Regions from separate parts of the Homo sapiens genome. Here region 2 is linked to region 1. The links come from fine-mapping of genetic effects on gene expression. A gene starts in region 1. The other region holds a variant in brackets. All regions are shown on one strand. Distances are from middle to middle.

The links. PIP is the estimated chance that this variant, and not a neighbour inherited with it, causes the effect. A credible set is the group of variants that fine-mapping cannot tell apart.
Region 2: its variant is the best candidate, but not a certain one, in a credible set for the expression of NLRP13 in testis (GTEx, PIP 0.64).

The regions. Positions count from the first base shown.
Region 1 is chr19:55,928,768-55,937,108 of GRCh38, reverse strand. It overlaps NLRP13 (NLR family pyrin domain containing 13), which reads left to right and starts at 4,773. Exons shown (of 11, transcript NM_176810.2): 1 at 4,773-5,116. The coding sequence starts at 4,798.
Region 2 is chr19:55,862,466-55,870,806 of GRCh38, reverse strand. NLRP4 (NLR family pyrin domain containing 4) reads right to left here. Exons shown (of 10, transcript NM_134444.5): 6 at 2,931-3,098. Among named protein-coding and RNA genes, the nearest start is that of NLRP4, 30 kb to the right of the region's middle. The variant C/T (reference allele first, on the strand shown) is at 4,970.

The DNA of each region.
Region 1 (8,341 bases):
GCCACTGCACTCCAGCCTGGGTGACAGAGTGAGACTCCATCTCAAAAATAAATAGATAAATAAATATTAGGCATATAAACTCTTTCTGATATAAGTTGCAAATATATTTACCATTTTATAGTTTGTCTTTTTACCTTGCTTCACACATCTTTTGTTATGAATGCTTAAAAAACATTTGTAATAAAATTTGTTTATTTTTTCTCTAATTGCTTTTGAATTTTAAATCTTAGCTAAGAAAGCTTTCCCCACCATCAGGTTTGAGAGGAATTCAATTGTTTTCTTCTGGTGCTTCTAAAGTTTTATTTATGCATTTAAATCTCTGACGTGCTTGAAAATTATTCTGTTGTATAGGAAACAGATCTAGCATCACCATGCTTATTAAAAGTCAATTTCCCTCACTTATGAGTGATGCAATATTTATCAAATTTATATATGTTAATAATTTTATTTCTGGATTTTCTTTTTTCCTTTTCTTTTTTTTTTAATTTTTTTTTGAGACAGAGTCTCCCTCTGTCACCCAGGCTGGAGTGCAGTGGCGCCATCTCGACTCACTGCAAGCTCCGCCTCCCAGGTTCACACCATTCTCCTGCCTCAGCCTCCCAAGTAGCTGGGACTATGGGTGCCCGCCACCATGCCCAGCTAATTTTTTGTATTTTTAGTAGAGACGGGGTTTCACTGTATTAGCCAGGATGGTCTCGATCTCCTGACCTTGTGATCTGCCCTCCTCAGCCTCCCAAAGTGCTGGGATTACCGGCGTAAGCCACCGCGCCCAGCCCTATTTCTGGATTTTCTAGTCTGTTCCTTTGCCCAGTCTGTTTGCACATGTGCCAATACTATATTTTAATCATAAAGGCCTCATGGTATATTTTAATATCTGCTAGGTTTAGTCCCTCCTCATTCCTCCTTTTCAGGATTTTCCAGGCCATTCCTACAAATTCGATTTGTTCAGTTGAATTTTATAATCCACTTCCGCACCTCCAGGTAAAACCTTGATGTATTTGTATTAGAGAGAAGTGATATATTTATGAGGTTGAGCTTTCCATGCAAAAACGTGGTATTTATTTCTTTAAGGCTTAAGTCCACTTTTGGATCTTGCAGAAATGTATTTTATAGTTTTTCTTACATAAGTTTTGGATATTTCTGAAGTTTTTAAGTAAGCATTTTATTTCCATTTTTTTTTTTTTTGCTATAGTAAATAGGGGTATTCTTTTCCAGTGTTTTGAGTTTCCATATTTGAAGTCTATTGATTTTTGAATACTTATTTTATTACCTGCTGTAATACCAATTTCTCTTGTTGTTGATAGTTCTCCCATGCAGTCTTTTGCATTGTCCGGGTACATAATCAAGTTTGCAAATGTAGTTTTACCTGTTGCTTTCCAATTATTATACCTCTCTCTAATTGCTTTCCAATTGCTAGTTTAAAGCCTGTAACCCGAGTTTAAAACTAGCTAACATTGTTGATAGAATTGGTTGACATCTCCAGCAGAATGTTGAATAGCAGCGGAGTTATGACTATCCTCATCTTGTTCCTGACTTCGGTGGAAAATCCTTTGTATTCATGATGGAATGGTGGAAGGAGCATTTCTCCTGCAGTTGGAAGAAGACACAGTCCTGTAAGTGGCGGCAACCGTGATTTTAGTGTCTCACGACCTCTGTCTCCCTCTCCTCTTTCATTGTCCCCTGAGGTCGCCCAGATGGTAGGAGGGGTAATCACAGGCATTACTCCCATCTGTGGCTCTTTGCTGGCGTGGATGGCTCCATTTACTTCAGGATAGTATGGTCTTTAAACCCAGTTTGGCCTCCCAGCCTGAAGAATCCTGTGATTATCTAGATCTGGAGGAGAAAAACCAGATATCGTACGTCTCAGCTGAGTCTTGTCAGCTTCTCAACTGACCCCGAGTTGTGCTGGGGAAAGGGAGCGGGAAGAGAGCTATAAACAGGAGGCCCCGAGACACAGCTAAGAGGAGGCAGACGGACCCGAGGGCTGCTCACAGGTGAGGAGGGGGTGGCGGTGACTACTTCTATGGGGTTTCCCGAATCAGCCTCTGGAAACTCATGTGAGATTCAAAGTCTGGTTGGTAAGAGACGTCTCCTCTCTCTGCTCTAAGGTTTCACCTTTCTCTGGGACCTTTTACTCCACTGTATCCTGCTGGTGTTTTCTTAGGAGCAAAAGTTGATCGCACACACTTCCTTCTTCGATTAGGAGCTTTCCATCTCCTCAACCAAGGGGATTCCGCAGTTGTGTGAGATTTTCTAGCTGAATTTCTCTGTTCTTGTATTTTTTTTCCCTCCAGGGCTTTTGCACTTGCTGTTTTCACTGACCGCTCTACCCCCTAATCCTCTTCCCACCCTCCTTGGCTCAATCCGATGCATGCATCAAGTTTGGAGGAATTTCCTTTCGAGTCCTATGTACTTGGCCTACTTGCTGTATAACTTCATGGCACCATGTGGGTCTCATACCCAACATGCTTCATCCTAATTATAGTTCATCCTCTTTATTTGTGGATTCCATGTGTGTGAATTCATCTACACGCTAAGATCTGCTGGCAACCCCCAAATCAATATTTGCAGAGCTTTCAAAGTCATCCAGACATGCACAGAGCCAGGAAAAATTCGAGCTGAGGTCAGATAAGGCAGTGCTGGTGGGTCTACTTAGTGCCCTGTTTTTGCATTTCTGGGCTTTTCGTCGGTGACTTTGCTGTCTAAACGTCCCCTTGTGTAGTGTGGAAGTTCTGTCTGGTGCTCGACACACAAGAAGGCTGGGATGTGAGTTCTGAAGAAAATGCATGCGTTAGCTGAGCTTCTTTCAGGCATGAGCTATAGTGTTGCTGGCGGTGGGCTCAATGTTAATGAATCAACGATATGTATTAAATTAGGTTTCCTTAAACAGAGACACATATAAAACAAGGTTATGTATTGACTAGTGGATGAAAATGTGACGAGAGGCTCACGGGAACCTAACCCTATAATCTTGGAGGAGTTTGTTGGTGGCTGATGTGATACCTCAGTTCTTCTCGGTTTAAAAATTTAAACAAGAGACATACAACAAAAGTGCAGCATGGAGTAATTTTTTTTTTATTGTTTCGAGACAGTCTTGCTCTTGTCGCTCAGGCTAGAGTGCAGTGGTGCTATCTCGGCTCACTGTAACCTCTGCCTCCCAGGTTCAAGCTATTCTCCTGCCTCAGCCTCCTGAGTAGCTGGGATTACAGGCACCCACCACCATGCCCACCTAATTTTTGTATTTTTGGTAGAGACGGGGTTTCACCATGTTGGCCAGGCTGGTCTCAAGCTCCTGACCTCATGTGATCTGCCCACCTTGGCCTCCTAAAACTAGGATTACAGGTGTGAGCCACCGCGCCCAGCCCCCTTGCTCAGCTTCTACTGGGTGTTCAATGATAGCTTAATGTCATTTGATTCTCAAATAAGCTTTTCCCCTAGTCTTTATCCTCCCTGCTTATACCTGAAAGGGCTTTTCTTCATGATGTTTCAAGTTTTCCTCTGTGTGTCTTTCCCCATCTTTTCTCCAACAATTTCTGGAGTAGTCCAATGAATTTGGGCTGCCAGGGTAGGTCCTAACATACATCTCTTCTGGAGATTTCTCTTTGGGAGACATTCGGGGGTCACACACCAGTAGCTTCAAGCATAGTGTTTTGGGCCAGGCATGGTGGCTCATGCCTGTAATCCCAGCATTTTGGGAGGCCAAGGCCAGTATGCACCTGTAGTCCCAGCTACTCGGACGCTGAGGCAAGAGAATCACTTGAACCTGGGAGGCAAAGACTCCAGTGAGCCGAGATCCAGCCATTGCACTCCAGCCTGGGCAACGAGAGCGAAACTCCATCACAAAAAAAAAAGTCTTTTGTTCTGCTGTCTATCTGTTGCCTTCAATACTACCTGGTATTTTGACATGACCCAGCATACATGCCGGACCAGGTTCTATGGGGGAATAGTGGCAGATCTGTCTCAATCACCATTAGCTGCCTGGTGGCCAAAATCGTGATGGGCGGAAACTTCTATTTTCTCTCTTTGTTACCCCTTCTCCCTGATTAGTTTCCCCCGTTCCCATCTCTCAAATGTCTTTGATCTTTACTGTGACTAATTAACTTCAATGTTCTTCTTATTCACATTTCAGGTGAACCCTCTGAATGTGAGTTGGTAAGTACCATCATGCACCTGTAACTTTTCTAGGACAGCTGTCACTGTTAGTAAGGCAGATAAATCAGGTGCTGATGGCATTGTTCCTTCTGGGATGGGATGAAAGCCAGTGATCTCGAGTCTAGGTAAGGTTGCTAGAGAAAATACCCAGTTGAGGCCGGGCCCGGTGGCTCACGCCTGTAATCCCAACACTTTGGGAGGCCGAGGCGGGCGGATCACAAGGTCAGGAGATCGAGACCATCCTGGCTAACACGGTGAAACCCCATCTGTACTAAAAATACAAAAAAAACTAGCTGGGCGTGGTGGCGGGCACCTGTAGTCCCAGCTACTCAAGAGGCTGAGGCAGGAGAATGGCGTGAACCCGGGAGGCGGAGCTTGCAGTGAGCCGAGATCGCACCATTGCACTTCAGCTTGGGGGACAGAGCGAGACTCCATCTCAAAAAACAAAACAACAACAAAAAAGTGTACTAACACAAGTAGCAGGAAGTACTGTGAAGCGAAAATACTCAAATGTGTAGGCAAGACAGTGAGAGGAGGTGATATTTATGGCTTATGATTTCAACTCTCTCCTTTTCTGCAGGTCACAAGTGTCCTGTGGATATAGGAGTCCTTTGCTGAAGTGAGAAACTGCATGTGTTGGGCAAGATGAACTTTTCTGTAATCACCTGCCCCAACGGTGGTACCAACCAAGGGCTTCTGCCTTACCTGATGGCCCTGGATCAGTATCAGCTGGAGGAATTCAAGCTTTGCTTGGAACCCCAGCAGCTGATGGACTTCTGGTCGGCCCCCCAGGGGCACTTCCCGCGTATCCCCTGGGCAAACTTGAGAGCTGCCGACCCTTTGAATCTGTCCTTTCTTTTGGATGAACACTTCCCAAAAGGTCAGGCATGGAAAGTGGTCCTCGGCATCTTCCAGACAATGAATCTGACCTCACTGTGTGAGAAAGTTAGAGCCGAGATGAAAGGTGAGAGTCCTCAAGAAGGAAGGCGGGAGGGCTGCTTGGTACTCCTGAGGCAAGGAGGTAGCCGCTGGGTTTTTGTGGGGTCATTCCACACTGCCGATCTCCCCCTACAAATCCTCCTTGATAATCTATGACAGTATGATGTTTAAAGGCATAAAGGCTATAAAGATTTAGTGCTCTAGCCTGGGAAGGAGTAGCAAAGGCAAGAAAGGGAATCGGAAGAGGCACATTCAGTTATGTTATAAGCCTTTTTCTTTCTTTCTTTCTTTCTTTTTTTTTTTTTTTTGAGCCTGAGTCTCCACTCTGTCGCCCAGGCTGGAGTGCAGTGGTGCGATCTGAGGTCACTGTAACCTCTGCCTCCCAGGTTGAAGCGATTCTCCTGCCTCAGCCTCCCAAGTAGCTGGGACTACAGGCGCCCGCCACCACACCCGGCTAATTTTTTTGTATTTTTAGTAGAGACGGGGTTTCACTGTGTTAGCCAGGATGGTCTCAATCTCCTGACCTCGTGATCTGCTCGCCTCGACCTCCCAAAGCACTGGGATTACAGGCGTGAGCCACCGCGCCCAGCCCAGGCTTCTTTTAAACATGCAAATTTGTCCCAGTGTGATTGTCGTACTGGGAACAATTTGAGTGCAGCACAGATTTCATGTTAGCTTATGCATGGTTTTGCCCAAGAGAAACACTAAGAAACCACAACAACCCCCGCCCTGCCCCCGCAACCCACCGACCCTGCACTCAGCCGAGCAGAGCCATGTAGGATTGTACACAATGCACACAGGCATGTACCTCAAACATCTACCCGCTTCCTCAGTACGAGCCTTGCCCATTCTACACTTTCTGTCTGATTTCAGATCATTGTTCTTTCACTTCACAAAAACTCACAAGCTGCGACACTTCCCATATTCACAAGCAAAGTTCATGTTTTACTCAGGGTAAAGTTTCATGCCACATCTTCTGTGGCATTGCAAGACCTGCTGAGGTGTTACAGGGCTGATTGTGGTGTTGTAGGATCGTGCAGTGTTTATTGTGGTAATAAAGTGTTTTGTAATTAATCAGCAAGTATAAAACCATGCTGTTTAAGCTTCTGGTTAAAATTTTATATATATATATATATATATATAATCACTGATTCTATCTCCTGTAAGCCGTCTGGTCTTAGTGCACCATGTAATCTGCTGTGGTGAGTTTTCAGAATGCACACATCACTTTATAAAAGAACTGACTGCCTATGAGAGCTGTTGAAAATAATCATGTTTCCTGGTGCCTGTTATAAACCAGACATTGACTCTTTTTTTTTTTTTTTTTTTTTGAGATGGAGTTTCCTTCTTGTCACCCAAGCTGGAGTACAATGGTGTGATCTTGGCTTACTGCACTCTCCGCCTCCTGGGTTCAAGGGATTCTCCTGCCTCAGCCTCCCGAGTAGCTGGGACTACAGGCACCTGCCACCATGCCCGGCTAATTTTTGTATTTGTAGTAGAGACGGGGTTTTGCCATGTTGGCCAGGCTGGTCTCAAACTTCTGACCTCAGGTGATTTGCCTGCCTCAGCCTCCCAAAATTCTGGGATTACAGGCGTGAGCCACCATGCCTGGCTATAAACCAGGCATTTATCTTAATGCTGTCTATACATTTGTACTGACTCTTCACTATATTTATAAGAAGGAGGTCCTATTACTTGTATCTTACAGAGAAGGAAACTGAGGCACAGACAGCTTAAGTAAATTTCCCAAAGTCACAGAGCTGGTGACCAGGAGAGCTGGGACATGAGCCCAGGCAGTGTGTCTCCAAAGGCTCTGTGCTTGACCTTGTACAGCTTCTCCTACCCTCAAATGAGTGAGTTCTAAGGAAGGAGAGTGGGCAATACTGAGTCTTCCATATCAGAACCCTGGACACGGGGCATGCGGAGTCATACAAGTTCGGGCTTTGTGTATCTTCTGGTGGAAAGGAGGATGAGATGGAGACTAGAACACCACTCCACCCTTTTTCCCTGTCCCTCTCTCATTTTTAAAGCCCTCAGATACTCTTGTTTGGAATAGGCAGATGTAAAGCAGAAAACTAGGGAATGAGATTTAGAATTCTTTTTTTTACTGTCTTAATTTCTTTTCTTTTCTTTTTTTTCAAAGAACCAACTTTAGGCTTTATTGATTTCTCTATTGCATGCTTTGTATTGCATTGATTTCTGATTTTATCTTTATTATTTTCCTCTTTCTACTTTCATTTTTTTATTATACTTCAAGTTTTAGGGTACATGTGCACAACGTGCAGGTTTGTTACATAGGTAGACACATGCCATTGTGGTTTGCTGCACCGATCAACCCATCATGTACATTAGGTATTTCTTCTAATACTATCCCTCCCCTAGCCCCCCACCCACTGACAGGCCCAGTGGGTGATGTTCCCCTCCCTGTGTCCATGTGTTCTCATTGTCCAGCTCCCACTTATGAATGAGAACATGCGGTGTTTGGTTTTCCGTTCCTGTGTTAGTTTGCTGAGAATGATGGTTTCCAGCTTCATCTATGTCCCTGCGAAGGACATGAACTCATCCTTTTTTACGGCTGCATAGTATTCCATGGTGTATATGTGCCACATTTTCTTCATCCAATCTATCATTGATGGGCATTTCGGTTGGTTCCAAGTCTTTGCTATTGTGAACAGTGCTGCAATAACCATATGTGTGCAAGAGTCTTTATAGTAGAATGATTTATAATCCTTTGGGTATATACCCAGTAATGGGATTGCTGGGTCAAATGGTATTTCTAGTTCTAGATCCTTGAGGAATCGCCACACTGTCTTCCACAATGGTTGAACTAATTTACACTCCCACCAACAGTGTAAAAGTGTTCCTATTTCTCCACATCCTCTCCAGCATCTGTTTCCTGACTTTTCAATGATCGCCATCCTAACTGGCGTGAGATGGTATCTCATTGTGGTTTTGATTTGCATTTCTCTAATAACCAGTGACGATGAGCTTTTTTTCATGTTTGTTGGCTGCATAAATGTCTTCTTTTGAGAAGTGTCTGTTCATATACTTCGCCCACTTTTTGATGAGATTTTTTTTTCTTGTAAATTTAAGTTGTTTGTAGATTCTGGATATTAGCCCTTTGTCAGATGAGTAGATTACAAAAATTTTCTCCCATTCTGCAGGTTGCCTGTACACTCTGGTGACAGTTTCTTCTGCTGTGCAGAAGCTCTTTAGTTCAATTAGATCCCATTTGTCAATTTTGGCTTTT
Region 2 (8,341 bases), 66 kb after region 1:
GAAGGAGAGTGAAGAGGGACGTGGTGTCTCAGGGAGATTTGCTTAATTTCACATTCAGGGTAATATTTCTATAATCTTACAAACTCCCCAGCTGAGATGAAGTTCTGGATTATCTGAAAACACCTCCTCTCATTTATTCTTTTGAGATGGAGTTTTGCTGTCGTCGCCCGGGCTGGAATGCAACGGCGCGATCTTGGCTCACTGCAACCTCCACCTCCCAGGTTCAAGTGATTCTCTTGCCTTAGCCTCCCAAGTAGCTGAGATTACAGGCACCCACAACCACATCTCGCTAATTTTTGCATTTTTAGTAGAGACGGGGTTTCACCATGTTAGCCAGGCTAGTCTCGAACTCCGGACCTCAGGTGATCTGCCCACCTCGGCCTCCCAAAGTGCTGGGATTACAAGGCGTGAGCCACCGCGTCCGGCCCTCTCATTTCTTCTTAGTTGCATGATAGAAGAATTAGAAAATAAGAGGGTAATGCAGAAGGAAAAAGTATCGTGTAATATGGCATAGCTAATACTCTAACAGGGCTTTAATTTTGGTTCTAATTCTTCATCTGATGATGTCCTTGGACAAGACATGGACCTTCTGAGACCGCTCCCTCAGGGACTGGTAAAGTGTATTGATTACCTCATGTGTAGAATCCCCAACTTTTTCAATTTCATTATTCTTTAAAATCACAGTAGGTTCAAAACTTTTTTTTTTTTGGAGACAGGGTATGGCTCTGTCACCTAGGCTGGAGTGCAGTGGCATGATCACAGCTCACTGCAGCCTCTACCTCCCTGGCTCAAGGGATCCTCCCACCTCAGCACCTCAGTCTTCTGAGTAGCTGAGACTACAGGTGCGTGCCACCACACCAAGCTAATTTTTGTATTTTTTTGTCAAGAAAGGGTTTCATCATGGTGCCCAGGCTGGTCTTGAACTCCTGGGCTCAAACAATTCACCTGCCTTGACGTCCCAAAGTGTTGGGAATATAGGTGTGAGCCTCCAATCCCAGCCAGTTTATGAATTTTTTTTTTTTAAGGATCCATGTTGACTTTGAAAAAAAAGTGTGGAGTAGAGAAAAACAAAAAAGCAGACGGTGCAAGCTAGTGATGAACGAACCACATATGGCCTACGGATATTTAGATTTCCTGGCATTTTTATGTTTAACAAAATCAGTTGGCAATATATAACCATCAGTAAAATTGTATGTAAAATCTAGATTTCAACCTCTGTTGAAAACTGGGATATCTGGCAATAATGAGCCGCATTCCCACATGGAAATCCAACAGGCTAGGACAGAACGGGCAACTGCTTCCTGTTGACAGACACAAGATCTGCATTTCCACGGAGGCCTCACCCAGCTTGCTTCTCTCACGGATCTCAATTTTCTGGCATATCCAGGCATTTGTGGACTTTGTTGTTTTTTGTTTTTTTTTTGGTTTATTTTTTGTTTTTTTTTGAGACAGTCTTGCTCTTTCACCCAGGCTGAAGTGTGGTGGTGCGATCTCGGCTCACTGCAACCTCTGCCTCCCAGGTTCAAGCGATTCTCCAGCCTCAGCTTCCCTCGAGAGTAGCTGGGACTACAGGTATGCACCACCAAACCCAGCTAATTTTTGTATTTTGTATTTTTAGTAGAGACGGGGTTTCACCAACTCACAGAGTCTACCAACTTCCATCTGGGTTCCCCTTCCTGAACTGCATCCTGAAATCTCTCTCCAGATAGTTACCTGGGACAATTCTAGGACTCACCTGTTTGTCCCTTATCACTCAGGCACCACTGTCCTTCATTGCCTGATGTCTGAAGTCTTAAACAGTTGTTTTATTTAGTTGGTTATTTTTGGTTGTTTTAGGTGGGAGGTTAAGTCCTGTCCCTGTCCCTCTATTTTAGCTCGAGGTATAAATCCTCTCATTTTCTTGACATTTTCAGAATACTCTTACTTTCATGTTGTTCATATTTCAAAATGCCCAAAAGTATAAAGAGGGAAAAATCTCCATCCTCCCCTATCTCCCAGCTTCTCAGTTCTATTTCTCACAGGCAGCCTATATTATAATACTATTTCTTCCAGTGATATTTGTGTATTTAAAAAATAGACACACTCGAGACCAGCCTGACCAACGTGGAGAAACCCCATCTCTACTAAAAATACAAAATTAGCCAGGCATGGTGGCGCATGCCTGTAATCTCAGCTACTTGGGAGACTGAGGCAGGGGAATTGCTTGAACCCAGGAGGCAGAGGTTGCGATAAGCCAAGATCATGCCACTGCACTCTAGCCTGGGCAACAAGAGCAAAACTCAAAACTCAAAAAAAAAAAAAAAGACACAAATGCATATATATTCTCCTGTCCTCTCCCCTTTTGTATAAGTATCACCTAAAGGTATTAGAATTCCATTAATAGGTAAATCAATTGGCCTTTAACACTTACTCATCTGTCTTCCTTCTGTGTTTTACGTACCCTAAAACTGGCTTGAATAGCCTCTTCTCATCCTATTACTGCAAGAACATCACATGTATTATAGTATTAACTGGGGTCAAGAGGCCCATAGACATTTTTCCCCGCTACTGTCCTGAGTACCCACCAAGTCTATTCTACATGCTCGAAATAACCGTTATCAACACGGGAAGTACCATGTGTGTTGCAGGTGCATTAACCCAACCTAACAGCTTTGAAACACAGTACGTGTTCTGTATAGACAGTCTCACTTGATAGCCATAAGACCTCTAAGACAGGATTTTCCTCTGCTTCTAAGTTAAATATTTTGCTTAAGAAGACAGTATATACGTGATAAATCCTGAACTAGAACTCAAGTCTTTTCTGATTCTTAAGCGTGAGCTTTTAAACCTCCGCTATGTGGCCTCCATCAATGAGCAGACTGTCATCAATAGGCCCAGGTTTGAACTGCCGCCATGGCCCTCCACAGTAGGCACCCCCAACATCCACTCACATCAGGTATACCAGGACCGTGTCTGGGCTGCACAGGGCTTCACACAAAAGGGGCACGCCTGTGTCTAACTGGTTGCAGGATACATTCAGATACGTCAGCTTCTTGTTGTTGGTTAGAAGGCCAGCAAGGACTTCACAATCAATGGGTGAGAGGTGACAATTTACCAGCCTGCAGGAAAGGGAAAATGTCACATTCTGTTGGTTTCTAGTTCCTGGACTCATTCCTCTTGCCAATCCTGTCAGAGTCGGGAAGCCCACATTTGCTGTCCTTGAGAGGCTCACTGCCTCCCAACCCTGTTCTTGATCCCTGTCAACCCAGTCTCTGGGGTACAGAGACAGCCAACCTGAGATGCACAGTCTCAGTTATATGCATGCTTGGCTTACGGTCTCTGGGGTACAGAGACAGCCAACCTGAGATGCACCATCTCAGTTATACGTATGCTTGGCTTACGGTCTCTGGGGTACAGAGACAGCCAACCTGAGACACACAGTCTCAGTTATATGCATGCTTGGCTTACAGTCTCTAGGGTACAGAGACAGCCAACCTGAGACACAGTCTCAGTTACATGCACACTTGGCTTACGGTCTCTGGGGTACAGAGACAGCCAACCTGAGACGCACCATCTGTTATATGCATGCTTGACTTATGGCCTCCGGGGTACAGAGACAGCCAACCTGATATGCACTGTCTCAGTTATATGCATGCTTGGCTTATGGTCTCTGGGGTACAGAGACAGCCAACCTGAGATGCACCGTCTCAGTTATATGCATGCTTGGCTTATGGTCTCTGGGGTACAGAGACAGCCAACCTGAGATGCACCGTCTCAGTTATATGCATGCTTGGCTTACGGTCTCTGGGGTACAGAGACAGCCAACCTGAGACGCACAGTGTCAGTTATATGCATGCTTGGCTTAGCCTCCCCCAGTAACTTATCTCACTGCACTTGGAGAAAATCCCAAAATATACAACATGATCCACAAGGGTCCTACCCATTCCCAAGTCCCCATGTCCCAGCCACCCTGGTTCTTTTTCAGTTGCTTGACAACACAGGTTTCATTCTCTAAGATATTATTCATGTTTGATCCTCCCCAAACTCGTGTCTAGTGGCTCCTTTACTCAACTTGGGCTATTTTGCATGTGTGCCCGCCAAGTGGAATGCTCTTTTTCTGGCCTGTGGTTAGATGCATCTTTATCATTCAGGTCTCTGCTCAAGTAATATCTCCTCAAAGAACATGGAAGAAGCCTTGAACCCGAGTCCCCTAGGACTCCTTTTTTGGTGGCTTGAGTTGATTTGTGTTGCCTCACAACTGTGTGGTTTAACTGTGTGGTTTTCTATTACCTCAACCACTCTCCTTACCTCTGGTTGCCACAAAAAATAAGCTCAGAGACAACAGAATAAAGATGAAAGCCATTATGGGAGTTGTCCAGAAATAAATGTGGAATTGGCAAGTCACCGAGTCCATGGCTCCTCACGCCTCTGCAGCAGGGCTCTGAGGCCATGCATGCTTTTAATGTTCTTTCTAGATTTAAGATATAGGTTGGTGCGGCCGGGCGTGGTGGCTCAAGCCTGTAATTCCAGCACTTTGGGAGGCCAAGGAGGGCGGAACATGAGGTCAAGAGATCAAGGCCATCCTGACCAGCATGGTGAAACCCCATCTCTACTAAAAATACAAAAATTAGCTGGGCATGGTGGTGGGCACCTGTAGTCCCAGCTACTCAGGAGGCTGAGGCAGAAGAATCACTTGAACCCAGGAGGCGGAGGTTTTAGTGAACTGAGATTGTACCACTGCACTCCAGCCTGGGTGACAGAGTGAGACTCATCTCAAATTTGGGGGAAAAAAAAAGAAAAGAAAACAAAGAAGTTAATCTTAATGAATTTGGGTTAGGCAATGGTTTCGTAGCAATTGCACCAAAAGCACATGAGACAAAAGAAAAAAATAAAGTGCATCTCATCAGATTAGAAGCTTTTGTGCTTCAAAGGACACCATTAAGAAAGTGAAACGACAACTCACAGAATGGCAAAAAATATTCACAAAGTA[C/T]GTCTCGTATATAACTTGTAATCAGAAAACATAAAGAACACTTACAACTTGACAAAAAGGCAAAAAATCCAATTAAAAATGTGCAAAGGTGTTGCCAACAACCATATGAAGAAATGCTCATTAATCATTAGAAAAATGCATATCAAAACTGCAATGAGATACCATCTCACACAGGTCAGAATGGCTATTATTAAAAAAAGTCAAGAAATAATATATGCTGGTGAGGTTGCAGAGAAAAGTGTACACTTACACATTTTTGTAGGAATGTAAATTAGTTCAGCCATTATGGAAAGCAGTTTGGCAATTTCTGAAAGAACTTCAAACACAACTACCATCAAACCCAGCAATCCCATTATTGGGTATATACCCAAAGGAATATAAATCATTGTACTATAAAGACACCTGCACTTGTATGCTCATCACAGCACTATTCACCTAAATACCCATCAACAGTGGGCTAGATAAAGAAAATGTGATACATATACACCATGGAATACTATGCAGCCATAAAAAAGAGTAAGATGATGTCCTTTGTAGCAACATGGATGGAGCTGGAGGCCATTATCCTTAGCAAACTAACACAGGAACATAAATCCAAATATCACATGTTCTCACTTATAAGTGGACGCTAAACACTGAGTACATATAGACATGAAGAAAAGGACAACAGACACCAGGGCCTACTTGAGAGCAGAGGGTGGGAAGAAGGTGGGGAAGAAAAATCTACCTATCAGGTACTATGCTTATTAACGGGTGACGAAATAATTTGTACACCAAACTTCCATGACGTGCCATTTACTTTTATAATAAACCTGTACCCCTGAATGTAAAATAAAAGTTTTTTAAAATGTTGTTTAAATGTTAAAATTTTTAAATGTTTAAAAACCTGTACCCCTGAATGTAAAATAAAAGTTTTTAAAAATGTGTGAAGGACTTGAATATATATTTCTCCAAAGAAGATATAGAAATGATCAAAAAGCACAGGAAAAGATGCTCATCATTAGTCATTCAGGAAAAGCAAATCAAAACCACAATGAGATGCTCCTTCACATCTACTAGGATGGGTATAATAAAAAATAAGTAAATATAAGTAATAATAAAATATAAGTAAATAAGTAAAAAATAAGCAAAGATGTGGAGAAATTAGAACTCTCATACATTGCTGGTAGGAATACAGAATTGTGCAGTCACTGAGGAAAATAACTTGGTGGTTTCTCTAACAGTTAAATATGGATTTACTATATGACCTAGCAAGTCTACTCCTGGTTACAAGTCCAAAAGGATTGAAAGCAGGTGTTCACACATGAGTGTTCATAGAGCACTATTCAGAATAGCTAAAAGGTGGTAACAACCCAAGTGTTCATCACTAGAGGACTAGAAGAACAAAATGGGGAATATCTACACAGTGGAATACTATTTAGCCAAGAAAAGGAATGAAGTACTGATACATGGTACAATTTGGATAAACCTTGAAAACATTTTGCTAAGTGAAAGTAAGCCATTCGCAAAAGACCACATGTGATTCAACTTACATGAGACGCCTGGGATAGGAAAATCCAATAGGACTGAAAGTATGTTAGTAATTCCCAGGGACCAGAGAGATAAGGGAGTGAGGAGTGAATGCTAATGGGTATGGGGTTTCTTTCTGAGGTAATGAGAACATTCTAAAATCAGTCATGATGGTTGTACTTCCTCATGAATATATATGAGGATCACTAAACTGTACATTTTAAAGCATAGTTATACTTTAAAAGTATTTCTTAAAATATATGAAGTACATACTTTAAAAGTATATGTTTTGTGGTATGTGGATATCACAATAAAGTTGTTATTTTTTAAAAAAGGGTTTGGGTCTTTTTGTGTTCGGTTGATGCAAGCTCAGAAAAATGGCCAACAAAGACTAGTATAGAGAAGTATTTGAATGTGTGGGTACCAATGAAGGTAAGTAGAGGGTAAGTATTTACAGGAAACCCTTATTTAATTGCAAAAATAAAAATGCTTGAATTAAAACATACATACTGGAAAGTACACACAATGGTTAAGTGCCAGCCAACGCACTGTCATGAATTTAAGGCACTTGAGTTACCAGTATCCAGGTCAAGAAACAGAGCAGGTTCATCATTCTCCTGTACCCCTCTCCTTCACTATCTTAACAAAAGTAACCGCTGTCTGATATGGTTCGGCTGTGTCCCCACCCAACCCTCACGTCGAACTGTAATCCCAGTGTTGGAGGAGGGGCCTGGGGGGTGACGGAATCATGGGGGTGGTTTCTAGTGATTTACCACCATCCCCTAGAGCTGTTCCTGTGACAGAGTCCTCACGCGACCTGGTTGCTTGGAACTGTGTAGCGCCTCCCTCTTCTCTCTTCTTCCTGCTCCCCCATGTAAGACGTGCCTGCTTTCCCTTTGCCTTCTGCCACCATTGTAAGTTTCCTGAGGCCTCCCCAGAAGCAGAAGCCTGTACATCCTTCAGAACCATAAGCCAATTACACCTCTTTTATTTATAAATTCCCAGTCTCAGGTATGTCTTTATAGCAGCGCGAGAACGTGTGAATACACTGCCCGAACCTCCAACACCAGAGCCTTGTCCATCTTTGAACTTCACAGGAATAAAGCCATAGGATGTACTCTTGAGTCTGGCTCATTGCCATCAACAATGTCTGAGATTTGTCCAGGTTTTTGCATACGACCGAGAGTGTTCTTTCTCATGGAACAGGAGCATGTAACCACAGGTTTCTTATCCAACTTACTGTCAGTGGTATTTCCACTTCTCAGAGATTATGAACACCTGCTGGGAATGCTTTAGTGCCTGTCTTTCAGCAAACTGAGACAGGTCCCTCTGTCGAATGTGCACCTCCAGGTGGAATTATTGGGTTACATAATCTGCCAGAATCCATGAAGGCTGAATACACACAGTTTTCCGAAATGGCTACATCAATTGGGAAACTTTAACTTCCCTATCCAAGTTCTCAGGAAACTAAGTTTGCATACAAATCATAGAAGGAAAAAGTGGATGTCTTCAAATATGCAGCCCCCTCCCCCAACACAAAAAGAAATACATAGTCTTCTCTGAAACCCAATCAGTGGTCTCAATAAACAGAGACTTACGCTATAGTCTTCTCTGAAACCCAATCAGTGGTCTCAATAAACGGAGACTTACGCTATAGTCTTCTCTGAAACCCAATCAGTGGTCTCAATAAACAGAGACTTACGCTATAGTCTTCTCTGAAACCCAATCAGTGGTCTCAATAAACAGAGACTTACGCTATAGTCTTCTCTGAAACCCAATCAGTGGTCTCAATAAACAGAGACTTACGCTATAGTCTTCTCTGAAACCCAATCAGTGGTCTCAATAACGGAGACTTACGCTATA